Homo sapiens: one gene and its partners. The protein of the gene in region 3 purifies or fractionates together with the protein of the main gene of each other region. This does not show direct contact. Each region holds a gene or a part of one and is shown on either strand. Other genes may lie near its edges.

Region 1 (3,558 bases), on a different chromosome or scaffold from region 3:
ATGCTGGGAGGGCCATCCCAGGGCTCCAAGCTCGGAATAGGGGAGGTTTTGCAAGCCAGTTCTTGCTACACACATCCCCGCGAGGAAGGTGCTGGCTACCCACGCTGTGGAAGGGAAAACTTGGCTCAGAGAGATGCAGTGACTTGCCCAAGGCCACACAGCCAGTGAGTGACCCAACTAGGTAAGAAACCAGAAACCAGTGACCACGACCAGTGCTCACTGCCCCAGGCCACAGCTGTGCCTCCGGGAATGCCCTCACCGCCTGCCCCTGAGGGTTAGGGAATCACTGTCACTTTTCCCGCTGTGGTCCCCCACACAGGCCCTGACCTGGTCCACTGAGACCTCCGGCTCCTCTGACTTCTCCTCCTACTCCTCCCCTCGCACACCAGCCAAGCCGTTTCCCGGGAAAGGCTCACACTGCCCACCTCCCTGTGCTGGTCCACACAAAGCCCCTGCCCAGAATGTCCTTCCCACCTTAGCTGTCCATATGTTCTCACCAACCTGGTCTCTGGCCCCCACACCCTCCAGGCTGCCCAGCCCTCCAAGCCTTTGATCCTGTCTGTATCTCCCTCTGGAATACGCTTCCAGCCCCATTTCACTCCCAACTTCTATTCATGCTTCAAAACCCTGCCCAGACAAGTCCTCCTCTCTGGCGGAGCTTCGTCGTCCTCTACCTGTAAAGAGCCCATGGTTCCCTCTCTCAGGTGACTACTTTGCCTGGACCACGAGCAGGCACTTGGTGAGTCTCCACCCCTTCAAGGGCTGTGGGTTCTGTGTGGGCCAGGCCGATGCCTGCTTATTCTCCACAGTCTCAGGCCTGTCACCCAGTGAATGCAGGTGGAAGGGAATTAAACCACCTCCTCCAGGAAGTCCTCAGAGAACGCTACTCAATGTTAGGCTGCAGAAGCGCTAACACTTCAGAGTAACACAAAAGACACCTCTCCTGAGAGGAGTCCCCCACACCCCCAAAAAGTGGGCAGCCCAGCCTTTTTAATACACTTTGCCTGTCCAGCCCTGGACAGAATTCCTGGTTACCTCTCAGTTCCTCAAACGGCCCTGTTCCCGCCTGTCTGGAAAGTGCCTGCAAACAGTGGCCCCTGACTTCCCACTCTCCTTCCTCTCTCCCTTCTCTTCCTCCCCACTGCCAGGCTGGCTGACTTTTACTCATCCCTCCAGCCCCTGCTCAATGTCACCTCCTCCAAGAAGCCTTTCCTGACTTCCAGCCATGTCGGGGCTACCACCCCACCTAAACCAGCACTCCTTGGGGAACTCAGCATCCCAGGTGGCAGGCACTAAGCCTCATTTGTTTGCCGCTGCACCCTGGGGCCAGCCCGCGGTCTGGTGCACAGCAGGTGCTGGCGTGCACCTACTCTGGGTACCACCTACACTGCTGTGGGATTTCAGGAAGAAGGCGCTGTCCAGGGAGACACAGTGAGGCATGATGGGAAAAGCCACACCTGTGTTGTTTTTCCAGTTTTGACCAGAAACACACTTTTGGGAAATGCTTGGACACTCTCTCCTCTAATGTCCAGCCACAGTGCTAGTGCCAAGAAGCCCCACAAGATTCACCTGTCTCCTCTGGGTCATCCCTGGAATCTCAGGGCCACGGTGATGGGGAAAGAGCTGGGACCTTGAGAAGCAACAGCCACCTTCTCTGAGGCCAGGCAGGGGGCTGAGGGTCTTTGTATGTTAGGTCTTGAAGTCTCATGTGATCCAAGACAAAAGGATCTTAAGTTACCCCCATTAGACAGATGAGGAAACTGAGGCCTGAAGAGGTCAAGGACCTTTCTTGTTGGGCGGGAACACAGAGTTCCTTGGGAAGCCAGGACATCCTGGCTGTGTGACCCTGGGTGAGTGACCTAACTTCTCTGAGCCTCAATCTCTTTAATGTGGAGGGGAAAATACCTATTTCTTGGAGCCATTAGGAGAATCCAAAAAAACAGAGGATGTTCAAGCCACCCCACTGGGAGATGCTGAGAAGCTAAGCAGTCTCATTTTCCATGTCCCCAAATGCCCCTGCCACAGGGCCCCTCCCCAGAGGACCAGAGGGACAGGTGCAGGAATGTGTCAATGGTGTGACACCCCTGAGGGTCCCCCTTACTTAAGAGACCCACAGGCAGCCAGGACCAGAGAGGAACCTTATGCACAGACCACCATGGGCAACCCTCACCCCATTTTCCGGATGAAGAAATTGAGGCTTACAGAGAGGAAGGGACTTGCCCAAGATCTCCCAGCCAGTGGGTGGCAGAGCAAGGCTAGATCCTGTTACCCAATTCAGAAAGGCCCACATGGTAAGCATCGCTGCTATTTCATGGCTGGAAATGGAGTTGGAGAGAGCAGAGACCATGTTTTCATCTAGTGCCTGTAGAACTCTGAGGCCTGGCCCTAGAATGGAGTGGAGGAGGGGAATGGGGCAGGTGGAAGGGGCCCCAGCACCCAGGTATCACCTGACCACCACCGAAGCCCACCCCCACGGAGGAAGGATGGTGCATTCAAGGAACCCAGAGACCACAGGGCACGCATGGCTAGTGACTTGGGGGTGAGAAAGGATTGATGTCATAGGGGCACGGACCAGTCAGGTCTTGGTTCTCAGGGCAATGGGGAACCAGCAAGGGGCCAAGCCAGGCAGAGGTGATGAGATCAGATTTGCATTTATAAAAGGTCCCAGCTGGGCACGGTGGCTCACGCCTGTAATCCCAGCACTTTGGGAGGCTGAGGCAGGTGGATCACCAGGTCAAGAGATCGAGACCATCCTGGCCAACATGGTGAAACCCTGTCTCTACCAAAAATACAAAACTTAGCTGGGTGTGGTGGTGCATGCCTGTAGTCCCAGCTACTTGGGAGGCTGAGGCAGCAGAATCGCTTGAACCCGGGAGGCAGAGGTTGCAGTGAGCCGAGATCGCACCACTGCACTCCAGCCTGGTGACACAGCGAGACTCCGTCAGGAAGGAAGGAAGGAAGGGAGGAAGGGAGGGAGGAAGGGAGGGAGGGAAGGAGGGAGGGAGGGAGGGACCCTCTTGGAGAAGTCTTAGGGAGGGGCCAGAGGGGAACAGAGGGGGAAACTGGCACATCAGCCAGGAGGGGAGGCCCTTACCGTGCTATTGGTTGAAAGATGAAGGCAGCTGGAGGTGTCACGGGGCAGGGAGAGGTGGAGCAGGAGGGAACAGAATACCCAACAGAAGGGGTGCCTGAGCTAAGGCAGAGGCTTGAGCCACTGGACATCATGAGGCACCCACACACACAGCGGCAGGAGCAGGGATGGGGCTGCCGAGAGGCCAGGCAGAACCTGGTGGGGCCTGGCGCACACAGCTAGGGAGGCTGATGTCATCCTGTCCACTGGAATCCCAGGCTGGATTCGCCAGTTTACCGAAGAGAGGATTTCAAATGAAAGTGAAAATTAAGTGCCAAATGATTCAACCTCAATTAGCAGCACACATTCTTCCATGCAGAGCTGAGCCCTGCCTTCCTCCCCGGGGTCGGGGAGGCAGTCATGACGGAGCAACAGGAATGGGCTCAGCTCTGTTCTAGAAACTGGCGCGATGGCAGGGAGTGAGGCAG
Region 2 (3,558 bases), on a different chromosome or scaffold from region 3:
TATTGCAGAGACTCTGGAAAACTGCAAAAAGGTTAAGCACATTTACAGAACAAAAAAGCTTAAATTAACACTTAGAGGAAAAGATAAACAGGCAGTAAACATTTGCATTACCAGGAGGAAGTATTTTTTTCACCATATCTTGTATCTGTTACTTAACTATAGTTATTGAATTTCTAAAAACTTCCCCAAAGCGATCAACATGGAGCAAAGTTCTCTCTATAAACAAAAAGAAATGAAGTGTTTGTATGCTCTGAGGAAGTAATGACTCTGCAGCACTTACAGTTCTTTTCGATTCATATAGTTAGAACAAAGAATTTTCATTGGCAGGGAGCTGGCAAATGGTAGATACAAATACCTATCCCTTCCCCCACTAAAAACACACATGCTTAGACCATTTCACTTTGTAGGCTTCTGGTTATTTGTGAGTCAGTCAAATGTAAACCACATTTGATGGGAAGAAAGTGTGTTCAGAAGAGGACCGACAGAAAAAAGTTGAAGACTCCAGGGACTAGAGTTCTCAAGAAAGTCAAAGAGAACTTGAGGTGATCATGAGAGAATAAAAACTCTGAAAAAATTACCATATGTCCCAACAGTTCCTCTCCTAGATGCCGATCCACGAGAAAAAGAAACATATGTCCACACGAAGACTTGTGCTGAAGCATTCATGGCAGCATTATGCATATTGGCCAAAAATGCAAACAACTCAAATGCCAATCAACTGAAGGACAAACAAAATGTGGTGTAGGCCGGGCGCGGTGGCTCACACCTGTAATCCCAGCACTTTGGGAGGCCGAGGCGGGTGGATCACAAGGTTAGGAGTTCGAGACCAGACTCACCAGCATGGTGAAACCCCATCTCTACTAAAAATACAAAAATTAGCCGGGTGTGGTGGTGTGCGCCTGTAATCCCAGCTACCCAGGAGTTTGAGGCAGGAGAATTGGTTGAACCCGGGAGGCGGAGGTTGCAGTGAGCCAAGATTGCGCCACTGCACTCCAGTCTGGGTGACAGAGTGAGACTCCATCTCAAAAACAAACAAACAATATGATGTAGCCATAATGGAGTACATATTCAGCCACAAAAGGAATGAGGCCCTGACACATGCTGCTACATGGACAAACCTTGCAAACGCGATGCTAAGTGAGAGAAGCCAGTCACAAAAGAGTGCACACTACATGATTCCATTTATATGAAACGTCCAGTACAAGTCAATCGACAGAAAGCAGATTTGTGGCTACCGGGGACTGGGGGTAGGAATGAGGAGTGACTGTAAATGGGTATGAGGTTTCTTTTTGTGGTGATGGAAATGTGCTAAACCTGGATTGTGGTGATGACTGCACAACTCTGTAAATACACTAAAAATCCTTCAATTGTATGCTTAATATGGGGGAATATTATGGTGTGTAAATACATCTCAACAAAACTGTAAACTAAAAAGGAACCTACGGGGCCGGGTGCGGTGACTCACGCCTGTAATTCCAGCACTTTGGGGGGCTGAGGTGGGCGGATCACCTGAGGTCAGGAGTTCGAGACCAGACTGGCCAACATGGTAAAATCCTGTCTCTACTAGAAATACAGAAATTAGCCTGGCCCCATTGGTTCCAAGTCATGACGGTCTAGGCTGATCCCATGGGGTGGGCTGCTGGGATCATGGACAAGGTCAGGAGGCCCTAACCCTGACTTCCACAGAACTGCCCTTGACACTCTGCTGGGATGTGCATTCATGTGTGCAGCTCCCACAGGGGACTGGAAGTAACTTGAGGGCTGAGGCTCTATCAGGTCTGATTCATGTGTCTGTCTCTAAGCCCTGCACATGCCCTGAGACACAATCCTGCATGGCTGGCACTCGATAATGTCCATTAGGAAAATCCAATGATGCTTTGAAAATGTCTTCCTCCATCCCCAGCAGCCTTGCGCAGGATAGTTTAGTGGATTACAGATAAGCTTTCTAGCTCTGTCTTAGAAAGTCATCCAACCTCTCCAAAGTGTAGTGGAAAAATACCATCTGCCTCCTGGGTTGCCATGGGAATTTTAACTCAATCTGATCTCACAGGAGACACCGTGACCTATTGCACAGTCGTTACCTGAGACTGAACTTCTGCAGGGCCCCAAGAACATTCTCCCTGGTGATGATATCCTTGTCCTCCTCCTTCAGCCTTCCCTCCAGCATCTGCAGCACCTTTGTGTTCTGGGCAAGGTAGAGGCGACCTGATAATACACCAGAGATGAAACAGGTGAAAGACAGAAATAATTTATCTGGTATGCTACAAAACCACTTTCCACGAAAACTTACTTTGCATATAACACAGTAGAGTTTGGGTAATTTTATGTTCTAAAAAACTTACTGGGCAGGGCGCGGTGGCTCACGCCTGTAATCCTAGCAGTTTGGGAAGCCAAGGCAGGCAGATCACCTGAGGCCAGGAGTTTGAGACCAGCCTGGCCAACATGGTGAAACCCCGTCTCTATTAAAAATACAAAAATTAGCTGGGTGTGGTGGCAGATGCCTGTAATCCCAGCTACTCGGGAGGCTGAGGCAGGAGAATTGCTAGACCCCAGGAGGCAGGTTGCAGTGAGCCTGAGATCGTGCCACCACACTCTAGCCTGAATGACGGAGCGAGACTCCATCTCAAAACAAACAAACAAACAAACAAACAAACAAACACTTACTGGTTGTGCAAGGTGGCTCACGCCTGTAACCCTAGCACTTTGGGAGGCTGAGGCAGGTAGACTGTTTGAGCCGAGGCGTTGGAGACCAGCCTGGGCAACAGGGCGTAACCTCATCTCTATAAAAACTAAGGAACATTAGCCAGGTATGATGATGCACACCTGTTGATCCCGCTAATTGGGGGGCTGAGGCGCGAGGAGTATTCCTTGAGCCCAGGTGGTTGAGGCTACAGTGAGCCGAGATCATGCCACTGTACTCCAGTCTGGTTGACAAAGTGAGACTCTCTCAAAAAAAAAAAAAAAAAAAAAAACCAAACACACACACACACACAAAACCCCCACAAAACTTATTAAAACTTATTAAAAGATATTTCTTCTAAACGTTAAACGTTGGTTTTATTCAATGAAATATCTGGTGACTAGAAAAACCACTCTTCTTGTGAGCTAAACATAATTCATTGCTGTGTTCTTGTGGGGAGCATTGTCCTTTTTTTTCCATGAAATCCTGAACCCAACAGTCAGATCTACAAAGAGAAATGAGGGGTAATGTGTGTGTTATGAGCCCTTAAGTCTTCACAACAGAGGCAGCCAAGGAATGCTTCCATACACACTCTCTGTACAAGGCCTGGAGAAGAAGCAGGAAGCCACACCTGGGACCCTGTAATAAGCCCAGAATGGTCCCTAGCCTGTTGTGGACTTCTGAATGGATATGGAAGATGTTAATTTCAGACATAAGTTTCAACAGTATTATTATATGAATGGTCCTCAGTAACACATCCTGGCTTATCATAAATGTCTGCCAAATGGATGGAAGAACGAATGAACAAATGAACAAAGTTTTGGAGTATCATATATTCATAATTTGAAAACTCCCTTTATTCACATTATAAAGAGCTC
Region 3 (4,048 bases):
TTGTGTGAATGATTATGTGACTGTGTGGCTATTTAAAATGAATGTTTCTCTTTGTGAATGACTCTGTGTGTGTGTGTGCGTGTGTGTGTGTGTGTATGTGTGTGGTGGGGTATCTAGAAGGTAAAACAAATGAAGAAAAATAGACTGTCCAGTCAAAATATGTAGGAGTAAAGTTTTCTTGGAACAAACAGGAGATTTGTTGTCAGGATACTGAGGATCAGAGGTGTCTTGGAACAGGTGGCTTGGAGTCAGGCATGACTCAGTCCAGTGCAAGAGGAGAGCCTGTGGCTGCCCAAAGTGACAACTTCTATTCAACATCACACCAGGCCCATTGCCATTCCAGGAACACCTCAACTGTAACCCCATACACCCATAGAAACAAACAGTACTGGGGTTAAATAGATGACTTCTACATCAACTCCTCTCTGTCTATAGGTCCTGACTCACAATGGGGAAACAAGGAAGGAGGAAGATTCTGCCAATGACACACACAGCCAAGACTGGAATTAAAAGCAATTTAATGAGGGAAGAGCAGGAAACATGCATTTCTTTTCATTCGAATCTTCAGATGAACCCTGAGCAGCCGAAGACCAGAAAAGCCATGAAGACTTTCTGCTTAATTCAGGGGCTTACAGGATTCTTCAGAGTGTGTGTGAACAAAAGCTTTATAGTACGTATTTTTAGGATACAAATAAGAGAGAGACTATGGCTTGGGGTGACAATGTGCTGATTACAAGGTCTACAGACAATTAAGACACAGAAACAGATGGGAAGAGGGTGTCCAGCATCTGGTGGTTGGCTTCTCAAGGGCTTGTCTGTGCACCAAATTACTTCTGCTTGGTCTTCTGCTGAGCTGGGCCTGGAGTGACCGTTGAAGGACATGGCTCTGGTAGCTTTGTGTAGCCTGGCACAGGAACTTTGGTGTATCCTTGCTCAGGAACTTTGATGGCACCTGGCTCAGGAAACTTGATGAAGCCTTGGTCAGGGACCTTGATGCTGCCTGGTTCAGGGACCTTGGTGTAGCCTGGCTCAGGGACCTTGGTACAACCTGGCTCAGGGACCTTGGTACAGCCTGGCTCAGGGACCTTGGTACAACCTGGCTCAGGGACCTTGGTACAGCCTGGCTCAGGGACCTTGGTACAGCCTGGCTCAGGGACCTTGGTACAGCCTGGCTCTGGAATCTTTGTGTTTCCAGGTTGTGGAACCTTTGAGTGGCATGGCTCCTTGGTTGTGGGAACAAATATTTCCTGAGGTGGAGGCTGGCTGGGTTGTTTCACCTGCTGCTGTTGAAGCTGAGGTGGTGGGGTAAAGGTCTGCTTCTGCTGGTAAGAACTCATGCTTCAAAGGATGCTGGACCTAGAGACAAAACAGCTAATTCAGTGCTTTGATTAAGTAGGAATGAAGCCCAGTTTAATGACAAATATCTGTCATTTCATTCTCCTTCAGAACTGAGAGCCTCTCTTTTCTTTCTTTTTCCCTGAATTTGAGATCATGGGATGCTTTGGTGATCCCCACTTATCTTCCAGAGAATAAGGTAAAGTTGATTTCTTCCACATCGTGTAAATGGAGCCTTTCTTTATGCTTCTTTTCTTCCTGGTACATCTAAAAACCTACGTACAACATGAAAACACATACAAATATGCAAATATATACTCTGAAGCTTTCGCTTACACACTCTTTGAAGAATCCTCTAAGCTCCTGAATTAAGCAGAAAGTCTTAGTGGCTTTTCTGGTCTTCAGCTGCTCAGGGATCATCTGAGGAATTGAGTGAAAAGAAATGCATGTTTCTTGCTCTTCCCTGATTAAATCACTTTTAATACCACTCTTGGCTGTGTGTCATTGGCTGAAGATTGATGTGACACCTCAGTTTTTCCATAAGTTGGAAAGATTTTAAGGTCAGCAGTCTAGAATCTACTCACTCATGTCCTCCTTATAGAGTGCGATAGTTCTCCCAGGAGAACTCTTATCTAAACTTCCCCCTAAGGCTCCCACAATCCACCTGGGAGCCTCTGTTCACACTGTGCCTGCTGCACATGCTCTCTGGCAGGCTCTCCACATCATCGCTGCCTCCCCACACATGCCCACCTCTCATGGCTGTCCTTCCTGATGCTCTCACCTTCCTCGTTTTGCCACAGCATGATACTTGCTTTCCCTCTCTGCTAATCACTCCCCATGCTGTATGTTTGCAAATTTTAGTCAAGTATATGTTTTCTAATGGATTATACATTCATGCAATAAAGAAAAACTTATCTTTTGATCATCAAAATTGCCAATGTAGTGCCTTCTATATTAAAAATTTTCAATACATGTTGACAGGAGAGTGCTCTTGAAGTGGGTATATTGTCTTGCTAACTTAGCAAGCCTTTACAGAAATCACTCCCCTTTTCTGATCCTAAGTTCCACACCTGTAATCTGAGTGGAAAGTCAAAATATGTATAAGGTCACCTTAAACAAAAGTCGTTATTGCATTTAAAATAAATATATTCATTGCATAGCAAAGAGATCTCAATCAAAATAAAGAAACTATTGGAGAATATTAAGGTGTTCCTAATGCGGAGACTCACCTGCTGTGCAGAGAAGGTCGAGGTGTTCAGCCTCTGGGATCTGGTGAAGAGTCTCTTGTTAGCTGGTATTTATATAGAAAATGAGCCCTGCCTTAAGAAAATTGGATTTTTTAAAAGACTGCTCTAACTTCATTCCAGCTTTTGTGATAAGTATCTCTGGCTTAACATTTTTTGTCACTTAAGCTCTGACAGTGATGTCACCTGGGCCTGACTCACTGTCCACCCTTTGTGGTGTGGTTGCTGTGGGCAAAGGTCTTCTTGAATGGCAATGGATTAAATTAGGAGGAAGTACCATGCTCCTAGGACTAGAACGAGCCAGGCCTCTTGGCCTGGGCCCTAATCTTTAGCCAGATTAGTCCTATTGGGCTTCCTCATGGTTGAAGTGGACATGGAAATAACAATAGGCATTTCTGGTTCTGCGAGGCCATGGGGATGGTGCAGAATAAGTGAATCATCTGATTTTCAGTCTCTTACTGGATTTGGACCTGGGAGGAGCAATGGAAGGCAAAATGCCTGCTTTGGAAATAAGTTGCTTTCACTGTGAAGGGCGCCTTAAGGTGCCGTGTTGATCAGGGATAGTAGATGTCATTGAGATGGACAGGCAGGATTGACTGGATCTGTGTGACATTGTGGCTCAGCCCTGAAGACCCTGCCTCTTGTGGTATCTTTCTTCTCCAGGAGTGACATAGGAAGAGGAGCGTGCTGATTCCCTAGGTTCATACACCAGCCATTTCCTCTGATCACTACAGGATGAACCTCAAGTCACTAACTCAGAGTTGCCCTCAATACACACTCTCTTACTAGACGCGGCCCTTGGAAAATCCAGACATCCTTACATCTCAGGCATGTGAATAGCTCCTCCTTTCCCAATGTTCCACGACTGTGTTACTCCCTTGAACCTGATGCCCAGCTCCTTCCACCAGGTTCTGAAAGCCCCTTGTTCTACTTCAGCGTCACACAGTGCCTGGTTATCATGGGTGTTAAGTCAATGGACAGTCATTGTTCTCCTGAATAGAGCTGTAGGTTCATGGAAGGGAGAAAGGAAGTGAGAAAGAAACAGAGATAGATAAAGAAGAAAGGAAAGAAAGAAAGAAAGAGAGAGAGAGAGAAGGAAAGAAAGAAAGAAAGGAAGGAAGAAAGGAAGGGGAGGGGAAGGAAAGGAAAAGAAAAGAAAAGAGAAAAGAAAAGAGGAAAGATAGGGAGGGAGGGAGGAAGGCAGGAAGCCACAAGGCAGTTTCTTGGGCATGATTCACTGTCCTGTGCCAGGCCTCCTGGTGTGAGCTGAGAAGAGGTGTGAGCTGATAATTCATGAAGGAGAAGAGGCTTACCCTCCCTTCCACACCCATGTCCTTCCCTCTCTGCTAGCATTTGTTTGACCGGCCACTTCCCTCTGGGATGGGCCAGGGCCACTGCCATGCCTAAACTCTGGGCTCTGTCATCACATTAGCTCTTTTTCAGTGTTGGGTCCAGGTTTCTCTCCTCAG
Region 4 (3,558 bases), on a different chromosome or scaffold from region 3:
TCTTTGCCAAAACCAACAAAGTCACAGAGGCTTTCACTGCAGTGTGGGACCACCTGAGCCTCTGCGTGTGCAGGCACTGGGTCTCGAGAGGGTGCAAGGGGGATAAAGAGGAGAGAGCGCTTCATAGACTTTAAGTTTTCCCGAGCCTCATGTCTACCGATGGCGTGAAAGGATCCTGGCAAAACAGAAGTGTGAGGCAGGTGGGCGTCTATATCCATTTCACCAGGCTGGTGGTTACATAATCGGCAAGCAAGAGCTGTGGAGGGGCTTGCTGGATGCCCTCAGCACCCAGGAGGAGGGAGGGAGCTAGCAAGCTAAGGCAGGTGGCCCTCCTGGCCCCTTAAGGTCCATCTGCTGGAGGCCCAGAGTCCTTGGAGTACAGTCTACACCTGGAGGGGACCCATTCCTGCCAGTCTGTGGCAGGGATGGCGCGCCACCTCTGCCAGGCCAGGACCCCAAGCCCGATCAGCATCAGCATGGTGCAGGTGCACAGGCGTGAGCTGATCAGTGACGAGGGGCAGGCACACAAGGTGGAGACAAAGACCAAGAGGACGGTTGCCAGTGAGAGGCGCGGACTCAGGAACTTGAACAACATCTGCGGGGGACGGCTTTGGAGGTGCTCCGCTGCCTCCAGTTGGGTGACTTGCTGTAGCATCTCCAGCTTGGATATTCGGCTCTTGAAGGTCTCCGTGATCTCCTGCAGGAGACGAAAATGCACGCACCAGAAGTCAGCACAGAGTTGTGGTCGTTTATTGAGTTCTTAGGGGTGAGCAGAAAGCACTGTGGAGTGGGTATTCGAGGAGGGAAGCAGAGAGCCTAGAGCACATTCAGGGCAGAGGGGAGGGCGCAGGCTCTCCAGCAACAGGGAAAGCTTCATCTGACCCGGCTGCACTCCCCCATCCACTGTCTCCCGAAGCTGAGGACCTGGTCAAGACACAGCTACCCAGGGACGGGGGTGGGCGCTATGGGAATGGAAAAGTGAGGAGAGGGAAGCCAGGTCTAAGGAGGGGTTCTGAGAGGGCGCTCCCTACACCTGCAGCCGCAGCAGAAGCAGCTCCACCCCAGATCTCCCGAGTCAGAGGCTCACGGGTGAGCACTGCAGCACCAGAGTGGCAAAAGCAGCTAAGCCAGATGGTGGGAAGCGGAGCGTGAGTGTAAAGATCAGATGCTGCTAGCTCTGAAACAAATGTGTGTGGCCATCGAACCCTCAGGAGGGGGCAGCTCGAGGACCCGTGTCTTGCTTTGGTTTGGGGGTATCAGAATAGATTCGCTCATCCCTCCAGTCTTCTTGCAAGGCTCCCCCAGGAGGTTCTCACCCATATTTCCTTGGCTCTCTCATAGGATAGATAGGCCATTCTCTCTTCGCTGCAGGCCAGATTGTGTTTGAGGTTGTAAATCTCATTCAGCTGTCCCTGCAGGCGACCATTCACCTGTTCTTCCATCAATGCTTGCCTTGGGAGCAAAAGAGAAAGTGAGATTCCTTCAGTACCTCATCCAGAGCTCATGCCAACAGCGAGCGGTCCTGACCTAGACTAGATTCGGGTTCAGCTTCTGCCTTCCTCCCCGCTCCCCAGGCTCTAGGGAAAGCCTGCCTCCCACTCCAGGTCTGCCTGGGAACACCCCAAACACACACCAGCCACACGCACACCAATATTCATATATATTTTATATGTAGTTACTCTTTTGTAACAGCTTTACAAAAATAGCCACAGACTAGAAGTTGTAGAAATGACAGTGTGAACTATCTGTGTGTGCTCTTCAGTTCCGCAAATCCCCCAGGACCAGTGTTGAGCACGAAGTCTAGCCTGCAGTTTAGCCTGCAGTTACTCTATAGAAACATGGTGACTATAAGGATTGAAAAGCCACAAAAGACCACAGATTCCAGTACAATTCCATTAGTTACGAAATGTCCAGAATAGGCAAATCCATAGAGACAGAAAGCAGATTAGTGGGTGCCAGGGGCTGGGGGTGGGGGATGGGCAGTGGCTGCTAATGAGTACAGGGTTGCTTTGGGGCTGGTGAAAATATTGTAGGACCGGGCACGGTGGCTCACGCCTGTAATCCCAGCACTTTGGGAGGCCAAGGCGGGCGGATCATGAGGTCAGGAGATCGAGACCATCCTGGCTGACACGGTGAAACCCCGTCTGTACTAAAAATACAAAAAAAATTAGCCGGGCGTGGTGGCGGACGCCTGTAGTCCCAGCTACTCGGGAGGCGGAGGCAGGAGAATGGCGTGAACCCGGGAGGCGGAGCTTGCGGTGAGCAGAGTTCACACCACTGCACTCCAGCCTGGGCGACAGAGCGAGACTCCGTCTCAAAAAAAAAAAAAAGAGAATATTGTGGAATTAGATAGTGGTGATGGTTGAACAACTCTGTGACTATACGAAAAACCAGTGAATTGTACACTTTAAATTGGTGAATTTTATGGGATGTGAATTATATCTCAATAGAGCCGTTATTTAAACAAAAAGAGAAAAGTGAATCATGGCAATAGTTGCGCAACTCAGTAAATTTACTAAAAACCATTGAAATGTAGTTAAAATGGTGCATTTTATAATATGTAAATTATATCTCAATAGAGCTGTTAAAAAACCACAAGCAGGCCAGGCGCAGTGGTTCACAGTTGCAATCCCAGCGCTTTGGGAGGCCAAGGCAAGGGGATTGTTTGAGGCCAGGAGGAATTCAACACCAGCCTGGGCAACACAGTGAGACCCTGTCTCTACAAAAAAAATTTTTAATTATCTGGGTGTGGTGGCACGTGCCTGTAGTCTCAGCTACTCTGGAGGCTGAGGCAGGAGGACCTCTTGAGTCCGGGAGTTCGAGGCTGCAGTGAGCTGCCATCACGCCACTGCACTCCAGCCTGGGCAGCAGAGTGAGACCCTATCTCTAAAAGAAAACAATCACTACCTGTTGTGTATATAATTATATAAGTAGTAAAAGTATAAAACCATGCATGGAAAAGATAAGCACCCAAATGAGAATGGTGAGGCCAGTATAGCAAGGCCAGAATAGCAAGGAAGGGAGATGGTGCTGGAAAGGGGTAATGAGGGCTTCAACAGAATATTTTAAAGTTTTATTTCCTAAAAAAATAAGATTTGAAGTGAATATGGCAAATGTTAAGATTTCAGAAAGCTGGGGCTGTTAATTATGTTATCCTTACATTTTCCCTTTGCTTGAAATACTTCATAATTTAAAAACTTCTATGAAGTTCCCCTTTTGGCACCACAAAGAACGGGCCAGAAGGACAGAGGCCAGGGGGCCAGTGAGGGGGCTCTGGCACCACCGCTTACGTAGAAGAGAGAAGGCACCAGAGCGTGATGGAACCCATAGACTGGCAGGGCTGCCGCCCCAGGAGGCCCAGGAGGGTGGCGGCAGGCCTCAGGTGCAGGAGGTCTAAACGGTGGTGCTGACAGAGACGGGGAAAACAGTGACGACTTCTATTCGGTCCCACTCCAAGGACTTGACCAACACCCACACGGAGAAATCCCCCGGGCACTGAATAAGCTGACAGCTCATTTGTTGAAAGCCAATTTGTCAAAAGCTGGTTCCTCGCAGCAT
Region 5 (3,558 bases), on a different chromosome or scaffold from region 3:
GTGGACGGGGCCTCAGAGGTCTTTGCCTCAGCCCAGAGGCTGGGCCCAGGTTGGTGGGGAGCAGAACTCTGCCACGTGGCGGCAGTGGAGACGGGAGGCACTCGGAAAAGCTCCGTGCCCACAGGCCCTCCATCCTGAGCCTTTGGCGTCGGGGGGAGCCTGGTCCCTGAGGAACCAGTCACGCCCGTCGGCAGCTCTGGGGAGGTCCCCAGGGCCCTCTGTGCTTCCTGGGAAGAAGGAGTCGGCTCCAGGCTACTGCTTTCGCCTGTGGCTTCGGGCTCCAGGACCACAGACTCGTCCATTCCCCCGGCGGCAGGGGTGGTCCTGGGCTTCACCTCGCCGATCTGCTTCTCGAAGGTGCCGCCATTTCGAGTTAGGGCAGCAGCCTGGCGGTCCAGATGCTGCATCGCGTCCTTGACCCATTGCTCCTTCGGGTCGGCACAGAACAGCCTGTGCTGTCTCGTCTCCAAGCTACAAGGGAGGAAGACAGGGATTCGGTTATGCCCAGATACCAGAAACCCGGGCCAGCGTGGTGTGGGGGCACAGCACCAATACTCTGCAGGTGAACACACCCGGCTGGAAACCCTGTCCTCCCACTTAGCGTCTGTGAGGCAACTGACCAGCTGGGGCAACCCGCTCTCCTGAGCATCCAGGTCCTCACCCTAGAAATGGAGATAGGAAAGCCTCCCATCTGTAGGGTGACCAGCCATCCCAGAAAAATTGGGATGGAGGGGGTGCTTAGGATGGGGGACTTTCCATTTTAAAACTGGGGAAGTCCCCAGGCAAACACGGACGAGTTGATCACCCTACTTCTGTGTTACTGTAAAAAAAGGTAAATTATGTGAAGCACCCAGCTCAGAGTAGATCAGTAATAGCTGAAAATAATAACAATGTCGATAATATTGTTACCATTAAGGCAGGGGGCTCTGGGCTTTGAGTCTTCTGCTGGGGGGGACTTCAGGTGAGCTCTGTATGGGGCCTCCTCACTCTGGAACAGGCCTTATGAGACTTTGTGAGTCTTGTTGCTCCTCTCCTTCGGTTTCACAGCTACAGGCTGTGCTCCGGGCCCCTCTCCTCCCCTCCTGATGTGTGTTCACGGGCAGAAGGGGCTAGAGCCAAATATGTGGCAGCCTCACTGGGATCCCGAGCGCCCTCCAAATCTTGAACTTCCTCTGAAGCCCTGTGTGGCTAGTTCACCACCAAGCCCACAGCTCAGAGCTGACAGAGGCCCTGGCTCCATGCCACGGCCTGTGCTTGGCATTTTGCCCATGTCTAAACCTTACATCCATTCCACAAGGTGGCTACCAGGCTCATCCCCATTTTACAGATGAGGAAACCAAGGCTCAGAGAGGTGAAGTAAAGGCATCTGGCTCCAGGATGCCGGGAAACCAGAGAAGTCCAGGAAGCAAGTATGACCCTGCAGGCCCCCTGGGCACAGTGATCCCCTCCCCAACTTCCTTCTTCCCCTTCATCTAGAAAACAAAAAATACTTGGGGGTGTCTTGGAGAAGTAAGCCTTGACTGATCAGCAAAGAGGTCCGGCAGGAGCACACTCAGTACCTTGCCCACCTTAGAAACTGCATAATTGAGGAGAGGAAGTGCCAGACTTCCTTTAGCTGGGCCTAGAAAGCAAAGGGCCATTGGCCATTTCCTGCTGCCCGGCCTCTAGGTCTGGCTGAGGCTGCTTTAGGTCCCAAAAGTCAGTCCTGGGGAAAGGCCTCAGGGCTGGCTGGTTAGACAGGACCCAAGAGAGCCCCCAGGAGGAGCAAGTGACCAAGATTGCCAGGGTCTTCAACAGCCAGGGTTACAATGGCTCAATCCCTCCCCAAAGTCTCGAAATGGTCGTTTCCTGTCTGTCCAATGGAGATAGTGATTTCTGCAGCTCCTACTGACAGCACCCTGCCAGGCACTTTATTTACTTTTCTTTGTCTTTTTCTTTTTTTTGAGATGGAGTCTCACAATGTTGCCCAGGCCAGAGTGCAGTGGTGCCATCTTGGCTCACTGCAACCTCCGCATCCTGGGTTCAAGCGATTCTCCTGCCTCAACCTCCCGAGTAGCTGGGATTACAGGCGCCCACCACCATGCCAGGCTAGTTTTTGTATTTTTAGTAGAGATGGGGTTTCACCGTGTTGGCCAGCCTGGTCTTGAACTCCTGGCCTCAAGTGATCCACCAACCTCGGCCTTCAAAAGTGCTGGTATTACAGGCATTAGCCACCGCGCCCTTGCCAAGCACTTTAGTTACATCCTGTCCTAGCTACCCATTTTACAGACAAGGAAACCAAGTTGCAAAAAGTAAGCAATGGAAGCAGGGCCACCCAGCCAGTAAGAGGGAAGGCAGGATTTGCATCAGGTCTGTTAGAGTCTGGAACCTGCATTTTAAGTAAGACCCTCATGCTTTACACCTACCCACACCGCCCCATGAAATATAGTGGGTTCGAGTGTGGGGTAACATGTGCTTCAGCCCAGGAGGAATTACCACCCTTCATGGCTGCTCCAGGCCACAAGCCAGGGTGGCTGCCACCCAGCCACACTGGGCCATTCAGGAAGCCACTCTCCACCTTAGCCATGTGGCACAGAAATTAAGGTCAGTGAGGTGGCCTGCAGGCCAGGGGCAAGAGAAGCGTGTGCTGAGGCCTTTGGCTGGGAGCCCAGGTCTGGGAGCGGAGGTGTGGACGTAGATTCTCAGAGGTCTGGGAATATTCCAAGGGCCCAAAGGGGATTTCAGAGGCCTCGAGGGCAGTACCTACATGATTGCGCGTTTGCCGCATGATGCCTGGTTCTGTTGATAGTGGATGAGCAAAGCTACAGGTATCTTTGATGTCATCTTGCTGCACGTGATGTTGCATTTCGTCACACCGTGGTGCTGTCCTGAGTTCAAAGAGGTTCCTGGTCAGCAGGGATGTCTGTGGGCATCTGGCTTCCCAACCCCGTGCCAGATTGTCCCGGCCACACCACCCAAGCCAAAACTGATCCCCTGTACACCCTGGCCTTCAAGGCCTTTGACTCAGCCTCCCTCCCCTGCCAAACTTCTCTATGCCTCAGTTTCCCCACCTGTAAAATAGGAACAAAAATAGCATCTACCTCATAGTCTTGTTGTAAGAATAAGAAACGTGAATTCTTATTTATAGAGTTCTTTTTGCCTGGCACATATTAAGAGTTTAATTTTTTTTTTTTTGAGTTGGAGTCTTGCTCTTGTTGCCCAGGCTGGAGTGCAATGGCATGATCTCGGCTCACCGCAACCTCGGCCTCCCAGATTCAAGCGATTCTCCTGCCTCAGACTCCCGAATAGCTGGGATTACAGGCATGTGCCACGACTCCTGGCTAATTTTGTATTTTTAGTAGAGACGGGGTTTCTCCATGTTGGTCAGGCTGGTCTCAGACTCCCGACCTCAGGTGATCTGCCCTCCTTGGCCTCCCAAAGTGCTGGGATTACAGGCGTGAGCCACCATGCCCGAGTTAATTTTTAAAATTAAGTGGTCCATTGTGCAGCAGGGGGGATGAATCTGAGAGTGACAGGGACCTGCTAAGGTCACACAGCCAGCAAGTGATGGAGCAGGTT

Evidence for each region.
Region 1: the proteins of SPRR3 (region 3) and RAC2 purify together in Homo sapiens (co-immunoprecipitation; one large-scale study listed by IntAct). This does not show direct contact.
Region 2: the proteins of SPRR3 (region 3) and ARMC9 purify together in Homo sapiens (co-immunoprecipitation; one large-scale study listed by IntAct). This does not show direct contact.
Region 4: the proteins of SPRR3 (region 3) and TEX28 purify together in Homo sapiens (co-immunoprecipitation; one large-scale study listed by IntAct). This does not show direct contact.
Region 5: the proteins of SPRR3 (region 3) and CX3CL1 purify together in Homo sapiens (co-immunoprecipitation; one large-scale study listed by IntAct). This does not show direct contact.

The regions. Positions count from the first base shown.
Region 1 is NC_000022.11:37,234,243-37,237,800, forward strand, and holds part of RAC2 (ras-related C3 botulinum toxin substrate 2), read right to left. Parts: intron 1-3,558. UniProt on the Homo sapiens protein: Plasma membrane-associated small GTPase which cycles between an active GTP-bound and inactive GDP-bound state.
Region 2 is NC_000002.12:231,271,602-231,275,159, reverse strand, and holds part of ARMC9 (lisH domain-containing protein ARMC9), read right to left. Parts: intron 2,206-3,558; coding exon 2,082-2,205; intron 1-2,081. UniProt on the Homo sapiens protein: Involved in ciliogenesis. It is required for appropriate acetylation and polyglutamylation of ciliary microtubules, and regulation of cilium length. Acts as a positive regulator of hedgehog (Hh)signaling.
Region 3 is NC_000001.11:153,000,310-153,004,357, reverse strand, and holds SPRR3 (small proline-rich protein 3), read right to left. Parts: upstream 2,610-4,048; 5' UTR 2,565-2,609; intron 1,756-2,564; exon of another isoform or gene 1,672-1,755; intron 1,357-1,671; 5' UTR 1,338-1,356; coding exon 828-1,337; 3' UTR 502-827; downstream 1-501. UniProt on the Homo sapiens protein: Cross-linked envelope protein of keratinocytes.
Region 4 is NC_000023.11:154,271,075-154,274,632, forward strand, and holds the end of TEX28 (testis-specific protein TEX28), read right to left. Parts: intron 1,453-3,558; coding exon 1,317-1,452; intron 698-1,316; coding exon 341-697; 3' UTR 191-340; downstream 1-190.
Region 5 is NC_000016.10:57,378,943-57,382,500, reverse strand, and holds part of CX3CL1 (fractalkine isoform 1 precursor), read right to left. Parts: intron 2,868-3,558; coding exon 2,747-2,867; intron 472-2,746; coding exon 1-471. UniProt on the Homo sapiens protein: Chemokine that acts as a ligand for both CX3CR1 and integrins ITGAV:ITGB3 and ITGA4:ITGB1. The CX3CR1-CX3CL1 signaling exerts distinct functions in different tissue compartments, such as immune response, inflammation, cell adhesion and chemotaxis.